2 separate regions of the Homo sapiens genome follow, and region 1 is linked to region 2. Evidence: fine-mapped expression QTL. Tissue or cell type: whole blood. Region 2 holds a variant in brackets; the other region holds the start of a gene. All regions are shown on one strand. Distances are between the middles of the regions.

Region 1 (9,549 bases), 30 kb before region 2:
TGAGAACAACTCTTAGTTTAAAAATGTATTAACTCTAACAAGGTTCAAGAAAATTCATGTGCCTACCCAGTGAGTACCTGAGTTGCAGCAGGTGATCCATACATATTTGTTGACTGAATGTCAAATTTTGCCAGCCTTTAAAGAACCATACCACACTGTTAGAAAAACTGACATGAAGGGCCAAGTGTGATGGCTCACACCTGTAATCTCAGACCCTTCGGAGGCCAAGGGGGAGGATCACTTGAGTCTAGGAGTTCGATGCCAGCCTGGGCAATATAGTGAGCCCTCGTCTCTAAAAAAAGAAAAAAAGAAAAAAAAGAAAAAGAAAAACAGAAGTAACTGTTTTATCTCCTGTCTTATTTTATGTATTATACACTTCCTTGATTTTCCTGTGTCCTCCTATCCAAAACTGTAACAATTTTGTTCAACATTAGCACCATATCATTTTATGAAACTCAAATCAGCCAACTTCTCTGGGAAGGGGTTGATGGAGGTGAATAAAGAGAACAGTGGAAAGTTTGAGGCTGAAAATAGACTTTTTTTTTTTTTTTTTGGAGACAGAGTCTCGCTCTGTTGCCCAGGCTGGAGTACGGTGGCATGATCTCGGCTCACTGCAACTTCTACCTCCCGGGTTCAAGCAATTCTCCTGCCTCAGCCTCCCAAGTAGCTGCGACTACAGGTGCCCGCCATCACACCTGGCTAATTTTTGTTGTGTTGTTCTTAGTAAAGACGGGGTTTCACCGTGTTGCCCAGGCTGGTCTTGAACTTCTGAGCTCAGGCAATCTGCCTGCCTCGGCCTCCCAAAGTGCTAGGATTACAGGTGTGAGCCACCGCGCCAGGCCTGAAAATAGATTTTTTTGGATTGCCTGTAGATTTTGGTCATGGCCTCAGCTCACTTGCCAGTATTAGCGATGGCTCATTAATGGTTGGCTGGATGGATATCCTATTCCTCTCAGCTTCTATCATCTTTCAAGTGAATTTCATAAGAGCCAATCCTACCAAATTGATTTCTAGCCTGGACTCCTGGTAACAGTCCAGGGGGTGCCAAGTGGAAGAACAACCGAGAACAACAGAATGGCATCTTTTTTTTCCGCTATCCCCTACTCTGACAACTCACCTCAGGACAGAACACCTGTTTATCCACGGTTGTAATGTGGTATCATTTGTTACCGTAGTGACAGAGTCCGATGTGTCAGTTTAGGTTAAAAACTGTCTTTAGTAGCTTTCATTTCTATTTTTTCACTTGTCTGGTTCTCTTTATTTTTTATTTGTTTTTACATGTTTGCATCTTAATCTCTATGTTGTTTATTTTTAATATTTTCTCCTGAGACTCTTGAAGTGTGGTAATTATTCTTTTAGCAATCAATGAAGCTATTTGGGAAGTGATTGGTTAAGCTGTGCCCCTCAAAGCATAGCCCTCAAAACCTGAGGACTTGAAGTATATTTGCAAAGAACCTTTGGTTCTAGTCACAAGCTATACTTAGTGAATTAGATATACTACACAAAATTCTGCCAAATTTTAGTCCCCATCAGTTTTTTAAACATTTCCAATTAGCAAAACACACAAACAGGCCTACATCGTTTGCGAATTTAGACAAATCCTGACTAATACCAGCGGACCTCCCCTGACTTCTGTCCCCATCCCCACTCAGCATGGGTGACCTCTTTGTAGCCAGCTCTTGTGTAAGTGCTTTTTATACTGTCAGATTATCCTTCTTGCCACAGCTGTTAATAAATCTGAACACAAGATCTTGAATATTTGTTTTCATCTCCTTAATATTGTGTCACTCAAAATGGTACCAATTCCCTTATTATATATACTCTCAATGGAGTATTTATCATCTTTAAAGAAACAAGTCACTGAGCATCTCATCAACACCAAGAGCCTTGGGGTGTGCCTTCAGGGCAGCAAACAGATAATATCCCTTCAACACGTGTATCCACTTATTCATTTTTTATCACTGTCTGCCCAAGCTGAATCAGAGAGCATTCACCACGCTTCTTGTTACATGGGTGCCCCAGTAAACAGCAATAACTGTGAGAACCAGCAAATCAGTGGAGTGCACTTCCTGTTTTACTGGAATTCCAATTTATTTGATGAATACTTAACTGTTGGGGACAATGGAGGTGTGGCCTTGCCTGAAGGCTGGCGAGTAGACGAGGCCTCTTATGAGGACAGAGCTGGTATTTTATGGCTCTTTGCATGTATTTTGCATTGCTGCTTTTCCTTTGGAGGCCTTTTTAAGAAGTCTCCCCATCTCATGAACCTCTTCAACCCACAGACTCCATCTTAAAAATAAGGGCACTAGGCTGGTGGCTCACGTGTCTAATCCCAGGACTTTGGGAGGCTGAGGCAGGCAGATCACTTGAGCCCAAGAGTTTGAGACCAGCCTGGGCAACAATGGAAAACCCTGTCTCTATAAAAAACACAAAAATTAGCTGGTGTGGTGGCCTGTGCCTGTAGTCCCAGCTACTTGGTAAGCTGAGGTGGGAGGACTGCTTGAGCCTGAGAGGTAGAGGCTACAGTGCAGGCCACTGCACTCCAGCCTGGGCAAGAATGAGACCCTGTCTCAAAAAAAAAAAAAAAAAAAAAAAAGGCTGTGGTTCATTCTTTCAAAAGCTAAGTGGAGCCCACATTGGCACAGATGCCAGCTACAGTGTCTGTGGAATCAGAAGCATCATCTGATGTTACAACTTCTGGCCTATTGCTCTTTTTCTTCTTTCTCCTTTGCCTACTCTTCTATTTCTCCATATTACCTTTTTGTTGGCCAATGCCTTAGACTTGCTCATGAGCATTTGTAGGTTTGGTAGCTGGCACACAAAACCAAAGGAATAAGTGTCTCCAAGTTTGAGTTGTAATTCTCCAGTTAAATTTCTTTCTTTGAGATTTATTACAGTAATAGGTTACTAAGACATTTAATTCTCACTGAGGGTATGACTGTATTTTATTCTAATACTGAGTTGAAAAATTACCATGGCCTCATATCTATATATCTACATTGGTGTATTTTAAAGGCTCACAACTCTTATACGGTATAAATTGAGCTTTAGAGCAAAATTTATTCAAGATAATATTTATCATGTGTCTTTATGTACCAGGAATGAGAATACAATGGTGAACAGACAGAAAAGTCTCTGGTTTCCTGTAGTGGGCATTCCAGGAGCAGAATGGCGTCATAATTCATTTACTCTATAAGTCAGAGAGAAAAATGATGGCACGAACTGCAAGGGATTTGTGTGTAAAATTTGTGACAGTAAGAAAAAGAAACTGGAAGGGAATACGCATTTGCCATGTTCTATAATATGCCACAGACATTGTAACAAAATATTTCATGTCAGCTACTTCCATTTAGGAAATACATGTTCATTATTTTCTTCAAACTAAGAATTACTTTATCCCTCTTTTCTTTGAAGTTATCTTAAATCTGTTATTATTCAGGGTCTCTATCCAACTTCTCATCAAATTACCCTATTTGTAGCTTCCAAACGTTAACACCTATCTGCTAAAATGGAGCCTATAAAAAGCCTTAGTGGCATAAACTGTGTGTGAGGGAGAAATGGTATTTAAGCCCTTAATGAAGTTAGGAGCTTTCAAACTGTTGCACTTTGGGTTTACAGGATCCTTCCTCCATGTCCCTTTTTTGGGGGTGCGGAAGGATTTGGGAGAATGGGAAACACTCTCACTATATATTTATTACATTAATTATCTTCTCTTTTAAAATGCAATTTTCATGAACTGGCGATTTATGAACACTTCACATTGCTTGAAAGCATCTTACACTTTTTTTTTCCCTCAACTCACAAAGCAGTTTCTTTCTACTGGTCGAATTCTCAAGGCAGAAAAGCTACATACGTCTCTCGTTTCTTCACTAATTGTTCTCTAGAAAAGGGAAAGTGAAGAAGGGAAAGAGAAAAGACAACGGGGAAGAAAAGAGCATAGAGGAGAGAGGAAAAGTGGGGAGAGAAAGGAAGAAAAGGACTGAGAAAACGCAGGAGCCCTGGCTTGCCGGTGAGCAGAGCCGGCGCAGCCACAGCGCGGAGCCGCGGCGCCCACTGGTCCTCGGAGCTGCCAATCGGCGTGTAATCCTGTAGGAATTTCTCCCGGGTTTATCTGGGAGTCACACTGCCGCCTCCTCTCCCCAGTCGCCCAGGGGAGCCCGGAGAAGCAGGCTCAGGAGGGAGGGAGCCAGAGGAAAAGAAGAGGAGGAGAAGGAGGAGGACCCGGGGAGGGAGGCGCGGCGCGGGAGGAGGAGGGGCGCAGCCGCGGAGCCAGTGGCCCCGCTTGGACGCGCTGCTCTCCAGATACCCCCGGAGCTCCAGCCGCGCGGATCGCGCGCTCCCGCCGCTCTGCCCCTAAACTTCTGCCGTAGCTCCCTTTCAAGCCAGCGAATTTATTCCTTAAAACCAGAAACTGAACCTCGGCACGGGAAAGGAGTCCGCGGAGGAGCAAAACCACAGCAGAGCAAGAAGAGCTTCAGAGAGCAGCCTTCCCGGAGCACCAACTCCGTGTCGGGAGTGCAGAAACCAACAAGTGAGAGGGCGCCGCGTTCCCGGGGCGCAGCTGCGGGCGGCGGGAGCAGGCGCAGGAGGAGGAAGCGAGCGCCCCCGAGCCCCGAGCCCGAGTCCCCGAGCCTGAGCCGCAATCGCTGCGGTACTCTGCTCCGGATTCGTGTGCGCGGGCTGCGCCGAGCGCTGGGCAGGAGGCTTCGTTTTGCCCTGGTTGCAAGCAGCGGCTGGGAGCAGCCGGTCCCTGGGGAATATGCGGCGCGCGTGGATCCTGCTCACCTTGGGCTTGGTGGCCTGCGTGTCGGCGGAGTCGGTGAGTGGGCCAGGCGGAGGATGCGCGCGCCGTTTAGGGTGTTTGAAGCTACGAGAGGAGCCCGCAGGGAATAGGGGAGCGCCACCTGGGGAACCCCCAGTCCCCAAGTATACACCGGAGATCCGCTGGGACAAATGCGCTCGTCCGGTCACCCTTTCCCCCTCTTCCCTTCCTCAGAAAAGCGCTGCTCGCTGGCGTTACCCCGCGGTCCGCGGGAATGGGGGCACCGAGAATTGCGGTTTGGTCTAGCCGCAGAGGCCCCTGAAGTCACTCCCAACTTCTTCGCCCTCGGCGGGTCTTGCTGCGTGGTCTGGGAAGGACGGAGGGGAAAGGGTGGCAGGAGGGGGGAGCCTGGGTCGGGCCCGCGAGGGAACGGCTCCACTCCGCGCGCTCCTCGAGACCAGGGATGACCTGGAAACTTCGGGGTCCCTTCCTCCGCACACCATCCCCCCCGCGCCAGCTTTCCTGTTTGACTGCATGCAAGTTCTGGGGAGATGGGGGCCAGATTTAAGAGACCCGCGAGTGTCCAGAGAGAAAAGTTTGCAAAAGTTCTTTTGTTTGATGCTCCCTGCGGCTAGGGCGAGGTAACCGACACTACGTGGAATCGCAGTAGGCGATCCCTCAAGGGGATACTGGGGGAGGCACGGAACGCGTCCGAAAATGCTGGGACGCCGGCCACTGGATTCCCAGTCCTGCGGCGACCCCCTCCTCGTTGAGGGGTGGAGGTTGCACCGCGGGGCGTCAGGGACGGGAGGACATTTTCATAGGAGTTACACGGGAGTGCCGCAAGCAGGGCGAGGCGGGGTACGTGTGACACGGCGCTCGGCTTCGGGTCGCCTGGCCGCTGGGGGACAGAGGCTTCCCTCCCGCCACGCTCGCCCTCTCTGGCCCTGGCGGGGCGCTTCTGGGGCCGGGAGGAGTCTCGTCTCCGGCGGAGCGCCTGCCGGCACCCAGCTTCCCTCCCCCGCCCTGGCGGTGGGAACTTGATTTCTCCTTTTGGTCGCGCTTCGGGGGCTGGAGCTTGTTTCCCCACGTCGCCCAATGAGCGCCCTCTAAAGGGAACTGCCTCCTTGGCCTCCTCTCGTCCGCAGCTGCCTCCACCTGGGCGCCAGGAGCTCTGTCGGGCCAGGTGGAAGCTTGAGCACCCCAGATTTCGTCTGCAGCCTCAGTGCCCTCTGGGGTCTCAGGGAGTGCGGCTGTTTCTGGCCCTTCTGGTTCCCCACGTCCTCTCCCTTTGCCATTTAATAACGTGTCAATTTCTAATTAATTGAATGGTCTTTTCAAAGACAAATTATATCATCTTAAGGTCTTTTAGGTAGTTTTATGAGTTTGAGTCTCCCTCCCCCCCTTTTTTGTGCTGAGGCTAATTTAGGACTGGGAAACCTCTTTGGCATCGAGCGGCAGATGGACATTTTTAATCAGTGTGGGAGCCTCTGTGTGTGCTAGCAGATCCCCATACGTTCTTTGTGGTTGGAGAGCATGTAGAATTGGAAACTGTACAGACTACATGAGTATTTTGGGTGCTCAGGTTGTAAAATAGAACTCCCAGCCTTATCAGTGTTTCCCTTTGGCAAATGATGGTTTAATCCGTTGGTATTAGTTATCTCCCAGCCAGTTAGGATGAACTTTGGCTCTTTGTACACCAAAAGGCAGCAGTTCTCTTGTTTATTTCAGATGAGCGTTGTTGCTCCTCTTGTTGCAAAACAGGGCAAAGGGACTTCATCTAATAAATTTCAAGAGCCTGCCTAAAAAACTGCACATGGTTAAGGAGGCCCTTTTTTTTTGCTGAGTCTTATTCATGGATTTGCTAGGAAATGTTACTGTTTTGGGATTCTGGAGAAAGAATGTTTCTGTCTTCTGCTCCTCTGGGTTTTTGCATAAATCTACCAGTGCTCCTTAAGGAAGTTTTTTGGCCGAACTATATACCTGTCCTCCCCGGTGACAGCTTTCCCCTGAACTGTGTATCTTTGGGGTTCTAATATTTCTCAATTTGAACCAGAACTGGATGCTTTCCGAGTGAACTGCTTCATTGTGATAGACACTGTTTTCAGTAATTGGAAAATCATCCAAAAAGGGTGATTAGATATTTATAAAATGTCAACTTAGAGACTAGCAGAGAATCTTTGTTAGGCAGTGAGTCAGTCTTTCTAAATAGAAGCTGTTTCAAGGCCCAGAATGGCTAACAGTCCATTTAAATTACTTTTCAGTCTCCGTTTGTTTCATGTATAGCAGCAAAAATATAAATGAAGTCAAAAGACTGAATTTAAAAAAAAATTAGCAATTACAGAATATTATTTCCAGGACTTTGCATTTTAATTTGAAAACTGCAACTGTTTCCTGGGATTTAGAAGTAGTGATTTGGGTTTAAAGTCTCCCTTTAAAGGAAGAAAGGAAAACTGCCTACAGTTAGTGAATTCTTAAGTTTTATACTTAGCTCTGGGGGTAAAAAAGAGGTTCTCAGGAACTAAGGCTCAAAACTGCCTATGAAAAGGAACTGGTAGCTGTTCCTTTATGGATCCTGGAGGCAGCTGGGAAAGCCTGTTCCTAGTGATCCATTCATACTTTCCACTGGCAGGTTAGGACTTTGGCTGCGGAGCACCAGGCAAGGGGAAAATCTGACTGAGTGTGGCAGTAGTGATATGCTGCTGGTTTTCTGTCCATTTTGTACATGACTGTTTATCTTTAGAAATAATATATTGCAGACTGCTATAAACACATAATTTGAACTGGAAATATGTTTAAGAAAAGGAAGTGTTTTGAACTAGAGGAATTTTATAAACATTCTTAGATGTCTGTAAATTAAAAGAAACTGTCAAGTCATTTGGGCCCATGCATTATCTCTCGGTGTATTATGAAAGGCAGGCTCTGGAAAGTTTGCATTAGAAGGGTAACTAAAATCGAAATCATGTAACTTTGCAGTTCTTTAGAAAATATAGTTTGGCTGTTTTATGAGTGAAACAAATTGCTTTTGCTAGGGAATTTTATAAAAACAAGGGCTCTTTCTCTCTTAGTTGGGTATTAGCAGAAGGAGGATGTCATTTAAGAAGGAAAGATCTTGAAAGATCAGGCTTGCAGAAAATGGATGTCTGAGAAGCAATTTGAGCATGCCCTTCAGCTTCTGCTTTTAGGACCTGATATGTCTAGTTTTGATGGTAACCACCCTTCGAGGGGTAGCCTACCCTGTGTAATATGATCACTTAAATGGCGCCTTGGATAATCATTAGTTTGGAAAGGATTTCAAAAGGTGAACTGGTTTGTTCCCTGGGTGGAACTAGTTTTCAAGTCTCCAAAAGCCCCCAGAGACCTGACTGGCCAGCTAGAGGTGGCTTGGAGTCTCCTTAGGTTGGCAAGGCCCCTGAAGCTGACCCAGTCACACAGAGCCCCACCAGCCCTGTCATTAAGGTTTATAGCAAGTCCAGTCAAGCCACTGTGCTGTTGGCATACCTGCTGGTGGGGATCCAGTTGTCCTGTGAGGAATGCCATCTGGGTTTAGATTCTCACTAGATTGTCCTTCTTCCATTGCCAAAAATCAAACTAAAAGATTTTGCCCATCCTTTTCTTCTTCCCAAGGCAGAAGGGTGCATTGCAGAATCTCCAAACCACTGAATTCTTTTCGTGGACTAGAGGCCAAAATAAAGTCTTAGAGAAAAGCCAGAAGTAATGAAGAAGAATCTTTGCTAAAACCAATCTACTCTTATTTAACTTTTTTAGTCAACTGTGACAGTACTATCATTTTCATTCTAATCATTTGGATTTAAATCTTGAAGAAGCCCTGGACTCATTCATCTTTGTTGGTTTCCACGTCCAGTCTGCCTCTAAGTCCAGCTGTGCATTCATTCTGCAGATATTTATTTCATACCTACTAGGTGCTTGAGGTAAAGCAGTGAGCAAACCAGGCAGATATCCCCCTGCCTTCTTGGAGCTTGCATTCTAGTGATCTTTCCGTTCATTTTTTCATGCCTTCAGTGGCCAGCGTGGAACTTCCTCAGGAGTGCCAACCGGCCCCAGAATGCCCTGGCCCATGGGAACCTGCACTTAAAGATGCAGCACCAACAGGTGTTTACCCAGCTCCTGACCTGAGCTCAGCACTGCAAAGAAGTCGGGGTTTGGAAATGTGGTCCCTTCCTGCAGCGCTAATCTTTTTTTTTTTTCCTCTTGAGATGGAGTCTCACTCTGTCACCCAGGCTGGAGTACAATGGCACTCTGCAACCACCACCTCACTGCAGCCACCTCACTGCAACCACCACCTCCCAGGTTCAAGCGATTCTCCTGCCTCAGCCTCCCGAGTAGCTGGGACTACAGGCACATGCCACTGCACCTGGCTAAATTTTGTATTTTTAGTAGGGATGGGGTTTCAACGTGTTGGCCAGGCTGGTCTCCAACTCCTGACCTCAGCTGATCCACCGCCTCGGCCACCCAAAGTGCTGGGATTATAGACGTGAGCCACTATGCCTGGCCATTGGTCTCTTCCTGCAGCACTAATCTTGATGGGACAGAAAATTTCAAATGAAGAGCTTTCCCTCTTTTTTTCTTCCTTGGGGGCATGCCAGCTTGTGCTTCTATGTCAGTAGCCTTGTAGTTGCCATTCCTGGCCCAGACACTTGCATGCAGTTTGGTTTGTCCTCCACCACTTTGATCATGTTGCCCATGGTCTAGACACCTCCGTGTCCTTGTTATCATGGCATATAGTCTGTATGCCTCTGCTGGATTTATAAGCGGCCCCATAATAG
Region 2 (9,549 bases):
TTTGGCTAATTTAGTAAATAGTTGTTACCTGGAACTAAATGATTTCTCATAACATGCCTTCTTGGCCTTTCTCACGGGACTTCCTGGAACAAGATGACTTTTGTTGGGTAGAGCTGATATAAGAATCCAGCCAATGAAACTGTAGTGACAACTTTTTACTTTTAAAAGTATATATTGTAAAAAGCTCTCTTGAATCTACAAATAGAATCCATTTTACTAAAGCTAGGGTGTTAGTCACATTATATTTCCAAGAAAACACAGTATAATTGTCACTTTCAAGGGCCATCGAACTGAAGTAGAGAAAGGTGGTGACTTTATGGGAACACCAGATTAGTATTAGAAATTAGCGTGAGATCTATACATTTAGCAGTTTCTAAAGGTGATTTCTGCTGCTTCACTCACTCTTACTGTTTCTTGAAGTATTGATTGTCAAAGTGATTAGAGGAGCAGTAATAATTCATTTACAGGGAGTCTTACTGCCTTTTCCTTTCCAGAGCCTCTCCTCACATTCCCAAGCTGTTTATATGTGATGTTCAGCTTGTGGACAGGGTGTGTGCTTATGTTTTAAGTATTTGCTTCTGGAGAGCTAGCTAGAAAAAGCAAAACAGAGAAACCCATTGGCGTGTTGAGAGTTGAATCCACAAGAAGATGTTGTTTGCAATGTGCCGAAAACATAAGGTCCAAACAGCCGGAACAGGCCTGGTGCCAGGCAATTTCACTGTGAGAGAAAGAGGAGGTCTGATGCAGTTCTCTAAGGATTAGCTGCAACTCAGCAGCTGCTGTCTGAGTTTGATTATGCACATCCTGAGACCTGCATTAACCCTTGTGCCCCTGGGGGAACCTCAGGGCTGTCTTCTAAACAAAGGACTTTTCCCCTGGACACCCAGGGGCAAAAGCCAAAACAATATGGAGGTTAAAAGAAGGCGGAGCTCTGGGAGACTGGATTTGAGAGAACAATCTAGGAAGGAAACGGATTGTAGAATTTTGGAACTGCAAGTGCCTTTTAAGACCCTTTCATTTTATTGATCAAGAAGCAGAGGCTCAGAGAAGTTAGGTGACTTGCCCAAGGAGAATCAGTCAAAACTTAAGTCCAGGTGTCTTCATTCCCAGCTAAGCTGTTTCATGCAGCACCACATCCCTAATGGGATGATTTTCACATTCGTATAAATAATATGTTGTGTATTTTTGAAAACTGCGCTGAGAGGAAACCAAAAGCATTTTTGAATTATGTGTTAATCACTTCTTATAGACTGTCCAGGGATATTCAGATTTTTCTTTCAAATAACATTTTATTAGTGTGTAAGTCTTAATAAGTGACAGGTAAATAGATCATTCCAGTAGCTACCATGTATGATTCATAAAGGCAGAACAGGCGTCCTGGGAAGGTGTTAGGAGGGAAAGCTCGGATCTAGGGAGACTGCTCTGAAAACAAGGAAGGATGTTTATGGAATGAACTCTTTTGTTCAACCATGGCGATGTCTGGATCAGGGCAGCCTTGGAGGATTTATGGCCTCCAGTCTGGAGAAGGTAGGTGGGCTCGCATTATCTGTGTTGTAAGAAAAGTGTGTGAGGTCTTTGAGCCTAAGGCTGTCCAGGTAACAAAAGACTCTGTCAAAAAAATATGTCTATTTAGAGTTCTTTGAGAGTAATATGTTGCTATTTATTTCACATCTGTGTCGGGTATTGAGCATTTTCCTTGCTTTGCGGTTGTAACAAGATCCTCAGCTTTCTTCCTTTTAAAGGTTGGGGAGCTAATTTCTTGTAGGAAATAACACATTAAATCCAAGCGTATCACTAAAACATGTGTGCCTTCTCTTTTTGCTCAATTAAAAGATTGAGCTGTTCGTGTTTTGTTTGATATGGGGGTACTTATTGAACATTGTCAACCTAAAGCATTTTGAGTAACCAAGAGAAAAATCAGGATGGCCTAATTCACTAAAATTCCAAGTACATTTGGGATGTATTTTTATACTTCTTAATTATGAGATTTTAAATTGCTTTATTTTTAAAGGTTGAGTGTGAGCTGAGTGTGTGTCTTTTTCTGTAGTCCTACCATCCTTTCTGCAAAACTCAAGTGAAAATTATTTATTTAGGATGCCCTATTGAGATATAGTGGAATGTCTTTGTTTGCATTTATTCTTTTTCTGGGATTTTGGTTATATCTATAGCTGTAAATAAAGGGGAAAGGAAGGCTTGGAGTGCATGTTAGGACAAGAGGTCCCAAGTAGGAAAAAAAGTCTTGCCTTAGAGCTATGCCTTGGGAAGTGCTTTTTATTTAGTAACCTAATCAGGACATGCCTGTGTCTATTTATTGTTGGATGAGCTTTTGAAGTACATATTGCCTGAAAGAGAATTTTTCAAGTGGTTACCTATTTTTTTTTTTTTCTCCTCTGGCTGGAGAAAAGTTAGAACAGAAGGGAACGCCGTGTATTATTTTTGTTGTTCTTCACTAAAGACATAGTCTTGGCTACTTCGGAAAAAGAAGGAAGGTATGAAATGGTGGTTAATCCTTTCCTCCATTTTGTCCCCAATTGCTTGCAGTGTCTCTTCACCCTATCGAGAAACACTTTCTCAAAGCTGTCTCTGTACTGTGCTGATATCAGAGGAGTCAACTAAAAGTGATTTTCTCTGTAGACAGTTATTCTAGTTTATGGGATGTATTATAAAACTATTGGGGAAAATCACTGAACTACTAAGGTAAGGGAAATAGCTTAAGGATCTATGATCCATATTTGAAATAGTCATTAAGTTATATAATTGGATTTTTAGAGAACAAGATAGAGCAGTTTCAGGATGTAAGGTGTAAAATAAATCTGGTCCATGAACTGCTTCCAAATTGTCACCCTGACCAGAAGAAGTAACATTCCTCAGGTTGTGGCTTTATCTAGAAAGGGGAAATGGCTATTTCTGGATTAGCTTTATACAAATGAGTGTATTTCCCACCTGCTGCTTTTGCCTAGGGTTGGAATTTTTCCTTTTCACTGCTTGTTACTTGGCGTTTGGATGGAAACGTATCCTCCCTTTCAGAGCCAGAAGATTCTGTGTGAGTCATCAAGAAAAATTTCTCCGAGGAGTTATTAATTCAGTTAGTTGCTCCATAGTAAATGGTTCATGCAACAGTGATAAACCTCTGAATTTGAAATCTTTCTTTAAAATCTTTTTTCCTTCAAAAAATGCATACAGTGGATTGCTGAGCATCTAAAATCCCGCACTGTTCAGCACTGTCATTCTTGGTAATTGCTTTTTAGAGGATTTGGTGGTGTTTTGCTGCTTAAGCTAAACCACGAAGTTAAACTTTTGTACTGTGGAAGTAGTTCATGAATCCTTTAGATTTCTTGGAAGAGGAAAGATGAGTGTGTGGTGAATATATATGAATATCGCATATTTGAATGTGTTACTTACTAGTTTTGGTTGAGCATTAAGGTTGCCCCTAATGGATGGGATCTCTGCCAGGGGTAACTCTTGGAGTCCTAGGTGCTATTGGGGAGGAACCTTTCATTCTCGGCATTCTGGGGGAGATTTACATCTGTAAGCCGGATAAAAATATGTGGAAAGGTGATTAGTTTAATTGGCCCACTATTATAATTATTCAGTAGGAGGTGGCTGTGGGACTGCTATTATAGCCCAAAATGCCTGGTAGGAAGAGGCGGAGACTCATTGAAAACAGCAGCAAGGTTATAAAACGTTGGTTTAAACGTGCATTTAATAACAGATTACCCTGGTGCTTTAAAGACAGAGGAATGCTTAAGTATTTGGTACAAGAATCCATCCAAAAAAAGACGCGGATTTTTTTTCAAAGATAATTGTGGGAAATTCTGCTAATGATTTCTTTTCCCTTAAAATATCATACAGGGGAGTAGGATTTAGGTAGGTGTAAAGTTGCTCAACGTGTTGGTAACTTTAAGATTATTTCTTCTCTGGTTGTTGCCACAGACACTCAGGGTGGCCACAATGGTGGTGTTGTTTTAGGCTTCTTTCAAAAAAGAAGTCCAGTCCAGGATAATGTTGTAAAGTGGAGTATTTTTCTTTCACATCAAAGGGCAAGGAATGTTTTACAGACAGTGAGCTAAGAAGTAGGGCACAGATATTTCAGTACTTGCGTTGGGAAACTATGTGTGGAATGTCATAGTTCATATACCAGAGACCCCGAAGTGAATCCAGGTGCCTGCACGGTGCTGACTTTTCCTGGAGTGAGATGACTGTAGGCAGAAATTGCAGCCAGATGAACCTAAAATAAAATTGATGGCTTTATTGGACATTCTTTTCATGAGATTTAACTTCTTAACGTGCACATACATCACTCTGGGGATGTCATTATCATGGCTGACCTTTCGTTTGGGGGAGCTGCTGCTCGCTGTCTGTGCAGCTCCGATCAGCTTGGCTTTGATTACCACCCACATCTGTTGAGCATGTGAGAGAGAGATTTTGAAAAATCTCAAGCACACTGACAACTGGCTACAAAGATTTAATTAAGACCGGTCAGAACTAATTTCAGTTATATATTCCAGTTTAGGGTATCAACTCCTCTGGTTTCAGAAGGGGGAGTTATGACTTCCTAAAAGTTGTTGTTGAAGGCAGCATGAGGAAATCTCCTTGGGCAAGCAGTGGGTTTCTTTGTCCTAGCTCCCCCACTGCTACCTGGGGTTAATGATTGCAGGGTGGCTGGCGTAATGAACCAGTGCCGGAAAGCTTATTATCAACATGCTGAAGTCATATTTAGAAATCATTC[C/T]TCCTCCTTTTTTCTCCTTTCCAATACAAGTCAGAGCACTGCTGTGGTTCCACCTAATAAATACTGCAGGCTTCATTGGGCTGTTCAATGAGACCTAATATAGTATCATTTGTGCACTTTAGTGGGTGGTTCCTATTTATATTTTTGTGTGGTTTACTGCTCAATCTTGGGAAGATGTGGGGTTTGAGGGTTTATCAGTTGCAGTTTTTTGTGGAACCAGTTTGAGTGAGACAAGACTTTGGCCATTATTTGTCGGGTTACATGGATCTCCATATGAGCTATGAAGATACTGGAATAATTGGGTCACAATAATGTAAAATCGTAGTCTGTACTTTCAGCTCATTCCAGAGGAATGATTGGAAGCCCTGCTCTCCCTCTCTTCTGCATGCAAACCTCAGGTGTGATTTCGGCCTGTGCCCAAGTGTTCTTGAAATGTTCAAGGCTGTCCGTTCCCACTCTGTGATGAGGCTTCCGGTTGATGTGTGACATCACTTAGGGCAGGAACTGGCACTGTCTTGATCCTGGCTGTCCTAGAGAAGCTTCTGTGCTTGGCCTTGGGAAGCCACCCCATTTGGTGCTGCTGTAGTCTCCTTTCTGCTCCTCTTTTAACAGCTGCCTCCCACCTGTGCTCACTTCCACCTGCAGGCCTTGTTTTCCAGTGGCACTGGAGTGCCATGCTGAGGTCACTGGACAAGTTCCTTATCAGAGCCCCCTTCCCATTAGAGTGAGGCTGCACCCCATCCTGCCTGGGCTTACTTTGTGCGTTGCTTGGGGGCATGGAGAAGGTTCTTGCCCTTGCTGCTTTATATGAGGTCCAATTCCTCCAGTGTTTGCCATCTCCTTTAGAGCTCTCTGGTGACAAAACCTTCTTCAGCTTGTCTACCCTCCAGGCTGGTGAGTTGAACTCAGACTGGTGCTCGGAAAGGTTAAAGGACTTGTCCAAGATGTTACCTTACTGGCAAACTGCATTCCCAAGTCTTTATTGATCTCCGAGGGCATCTCTTAATTTGTTGGAGTTTTCTTTTCCTGGAAAAAATACTGCTTGGGTCTCAGTTTCTCCACATATAAAATCAGAATAAGACCATAAATTCATGTAGTTGAAAGGGGCGGTTTCAGGAAGAAAACTAAGATAATGAAAGCCTCCGGAAAAGGGTCTGGGACGACATTATTTACAGAGTACTTTCCACACATTGTCAGGGTGGGGCCGCACAGGAACCTTGTGGGGTAGGCATCATTGACCTGTTTCAAAAATGAACAAAGTCAGTCCCAGAGACCTTGAATGGAGGCTTATCAAAGCTAAGCATACGGCTTCAAGTTTAACCGTCAAATGGTAGAGTTAGTCATGGCTTTTGGATGTGCGGGCCAGGCATGGTGCAGGGCCAGGTATGTTTTAGCCTTGTGGTTCTTTTCCTGATATTTCGGTCCTGTGGGCCTCCCCAAAGTGGCTTTGCACCTATGTTTGTTATGGGCATAAGGAAGTTAGAATTCTATGAATATGTACTGATTTTTTGTGATTCTGAATTTAAATAGGCCTCTATAAAGCTAATACTTGAAGTTTTGTTGTAATGAAGCATCACAAATACTTTTACATAGGAAAAAGGACCAAGCTGATCTCCTTAAAGCGGTTGCAAAAACCACCCAGTTGTTATACGATTGTTTGTTTCATGTTTCTTGTTATGTGGCATATTTCCAGTAAGTGGAGGGACCAAATATTTTATAGTTACAGAAACTTCTTCTCTCCCTCCTTGAAGTTTAAAAAAGTGGATCAAATGTCTGCCTATTTTCAAGGAGGCAGGGAGACAGAAGATCTTTTCCAGATTGCAGGAAGGCCAACGCAGGTTGCACCCAGAGAACTATGGAAACCACTGTTGAGGAGGAAGGAATTGGGTGAAAATTAAAGAATCAAGCTAGTAAAAGTGAAAAGAGGCCTTTGGTTTTTTTTTTTGGACAGTTTTTAAGGGCCTTCATAAATACTTGGTGTACTCCTCAAAGACCAAGCGTTGAAGGGTTAAGTCAGGGAACTAAAACTTGGATTGTGTGTTGACCCCTGTGTAGCTGTGGCCAGGGCTCCTGATTTTCCCCTGACGATCCATTGGTAGAACAAGGCCAGTGGTACTGTTTTCTGGTGCAGGGGAGGCTCGGACCTGCAGGGGAGTTACGGAGGCTGGCCACTGGTTTGGAGCAGACAGGTAAGTAGCCTCTAGGGAGGTGGTAGCTCTGTACAACAGTCTGTTCCCAATGTCTGGGTGACTCTTGTTCCCAATACTTGGCTCTCTTTTTGGATGTCAGAGTCATATTCTTCATTCTCCATGTCTCCTGCTAATTTTTGGCATTGACCCATCCAGGATTTATTTCAGCAGCTAGCATGGTGCCTGACCTATCCATAGTAGGTGCTTAGTAAATACTGCACTCCACAGGGGGAAGAGGGCAGGCACGTTCTGCCTATTGACGTGGTGGGAAGAGAGACCGTGCTTAGGGACAGGTTTGGGAGCTTCATTATTTCTGCCTTGGGACTGTTTGAATGCACCCTATTTTGCTATAGGGGAAACACTGCAATAACATAAATCCCACTTGAATCATTCTTTGTTCTATCACCCCTGCCCTTATCACTGCTCTTGTAAGACAGACATCATAGGAGACTCCTAATCCTCTCCCTGCCTCTGGTGGGTGCATGACACTGATCTAGCTTCCACTTGCACAGTTCTCTCTCTCTCTGCCCCTAAAACAGAAATATGATCATGTTATTCTCCTACTTACATGCCCGTCAGTGGCTCCCCAGTGCCGTACTGCTGTGGCACACAGAACCCTACGTGATCTGGTCCTGCGTGCTCTGTAAGTGGCAAGTCCCAGGGCCTCTTCGTGCAGGCTGTTCAAGGGGGTCTCATAACCTACCAGTCCGAGTTAGACTTGTTGAGTCTTAAAACCAAGCTGCTTTGAGTTGGGTCTTCAGATGAACTGGGAATCAACATATTTGGGATGGATCTGTAGGGTGCATTTAAAAGGCACTGAATGTTTGGAATGGAGTGCAAGAATTAATGTTAAGTTACCAGAGAAAATTGAGGTATTAAGGGATCTGCGCATATAGTTTTCAAAAATCAATTAAACAAAAAGCCTGTTTTTTAACTGATTCTATAGTTCATTTGGAAGACTATGTATATTACATTATATCATATATCTACATGTGTGATATATTTATAATAGAAAAATGAAGCAGAAACTTCTACTACCAAATATTAAAACACATTATAAAGTGCTGATAAAAGATGATGATGTGGGCATAAAAACATGCAAATAATCCAACAAAATAGCACTTTTCAAAACTTTTTTTAGCGTATGGAATAACTTAATTATAAGTCGTTGGGGAAGGAACAGATTATTTGATGAAGGGGGTTGTGAAATTGGGTATTTTAAAAAATCTATTTATATCTTTGCTTTGGTGACACACCAAAATATCTTTCATACGGATTGGATTTAAGTATATATATTTAAAGCTCTAAGCGAGAAAAAAAATGTGGAGAAAATTTGATCTCTGAGAAAGAGGATTTTTTTTAAGCCTAAAAGCCAAAAACTCTAAGTGATTGCTCAACTTAAGTACATAACAGTATTCATTTTACTGAAGAATTACAAATAACTAATAATGATCACTAGAACAGAAAAATGTCAAAAGAAAAAACACACGGTATTCATTGTCCTCTCATAAAATTAAGAAAGATTTAGAAAATGCAAATACTCAGTGCTCATAACAATATGGTTAGATTTTCAACACTTTCTAAAAGGAAAAATGTTAAAATAAATTCCAAAGAAAAAATTTTTTAAATGGTTTGGTTTTTACATATACTGGGGAAACTTACTATTTAAAGACTAGAGTTAATTATTTCAAAATAAAAATAGTCTTTCTAATTTTAGTTTCATAATGTTGTTTTTTAATCTTTGTTTGATTTTAAACAACCTTTTAGTCTTTGGGCTGTCCAAAATTATAAATTATATGTCTGTAATTTACTATTGTTAATCATACAGTTCTCCATATAAAAAATGGCAGAGAGAAAAACTGGAAAAATATGCCCTGTGAAGGGGATTTATGATCCTTAATATCCCAGAAGAAGACCATAATGAGGCATCTTATGTAACAGAGAAGTCATATAGGGCTTCAGTTTCTAAAGTGCTCAAATTTTAATTCATAGTGTGACTTTGAACAGGCTACTTTACCTCTCTTGGTCTCAGTGTCTTCATCTGTGAAATGGGAGGGTTGGGTTAGATCAGTTTCCCAGCTGAGATGCCCCGGCACAGCTGTGCCAAAATTCTGATGCCCCTCGGCCCTAAAGACAGCTGGACAGAGCTGGGGTGGAGGCCCTAGGTCAGTTACTTCCACCCAAGGGCAGCCATTTGTTTTTCCCAAGGAAAATAGTACCACAAATCACTCTCAATGCACTCTTAGATAATGAGTTGTCTTACTTTTAAATTCAAGAGGTGAGAGCTACATGGAAGAGGAGATAATTTTGGACATCACAGTGAACCATTCGTCCTTCCCAGTCAATATTCAATAGGTATGTTAAAAAATGAATGGAAGAAAACACATCAAAATGTTATTAGTAATTATCTCTGGTGATTGACTTACAGGTAATTTTTATTTGCTTATTTATAATATTCCGCCTCATTCAAATTTACTGTTAAGAATTTGTTAAATTTAAATAAGAAAAGTTATTTAAAACAAATCCCAACCTGTACCCATTTTTACATTTAAAAACTCCATGAGTACGAGTGACGGCTATGGCTGTCAGAGTTAAGAATCTAACAAAAATAAAACGGCAAACATGGACCCA

What was found. PIP is the estimated chance that this variant, and not a neighbour inherited with it, causes the effect.
Region 1: it holds the start of SDC2, and the variant in region 2 is fine-mapped to the expression of SDC2 in whole blood (TOPMed, PIP above 0.99).

The regions. Positions count from the first base shown.
Region 1 is chr8:96,489,513-96,499,061 of GRCh38, forward strand. It overlaps SDC2 (syndecan 2), which reads left to right and starts at 4,301. Exons shown (of 5, transcript NM_002998.4): 1 at 4,301-4,819. The coding sequence starts at 4,760.
Region 2 is chr8:96,519,999-96,529,547 of GRCh38, forward strand. All of the region lies in intron 1 of SDC2 (syndecan 2), which reads left to right. Among named protein-coding and RNA genes, the nearest start is that of SDC2, 31 kb to the left of the region's middle. RefSeq lists a silencer at 383-677 and an enhancer at 691-1,191. The variant C/T (reference allele first, on the strand shown) is at 4,730.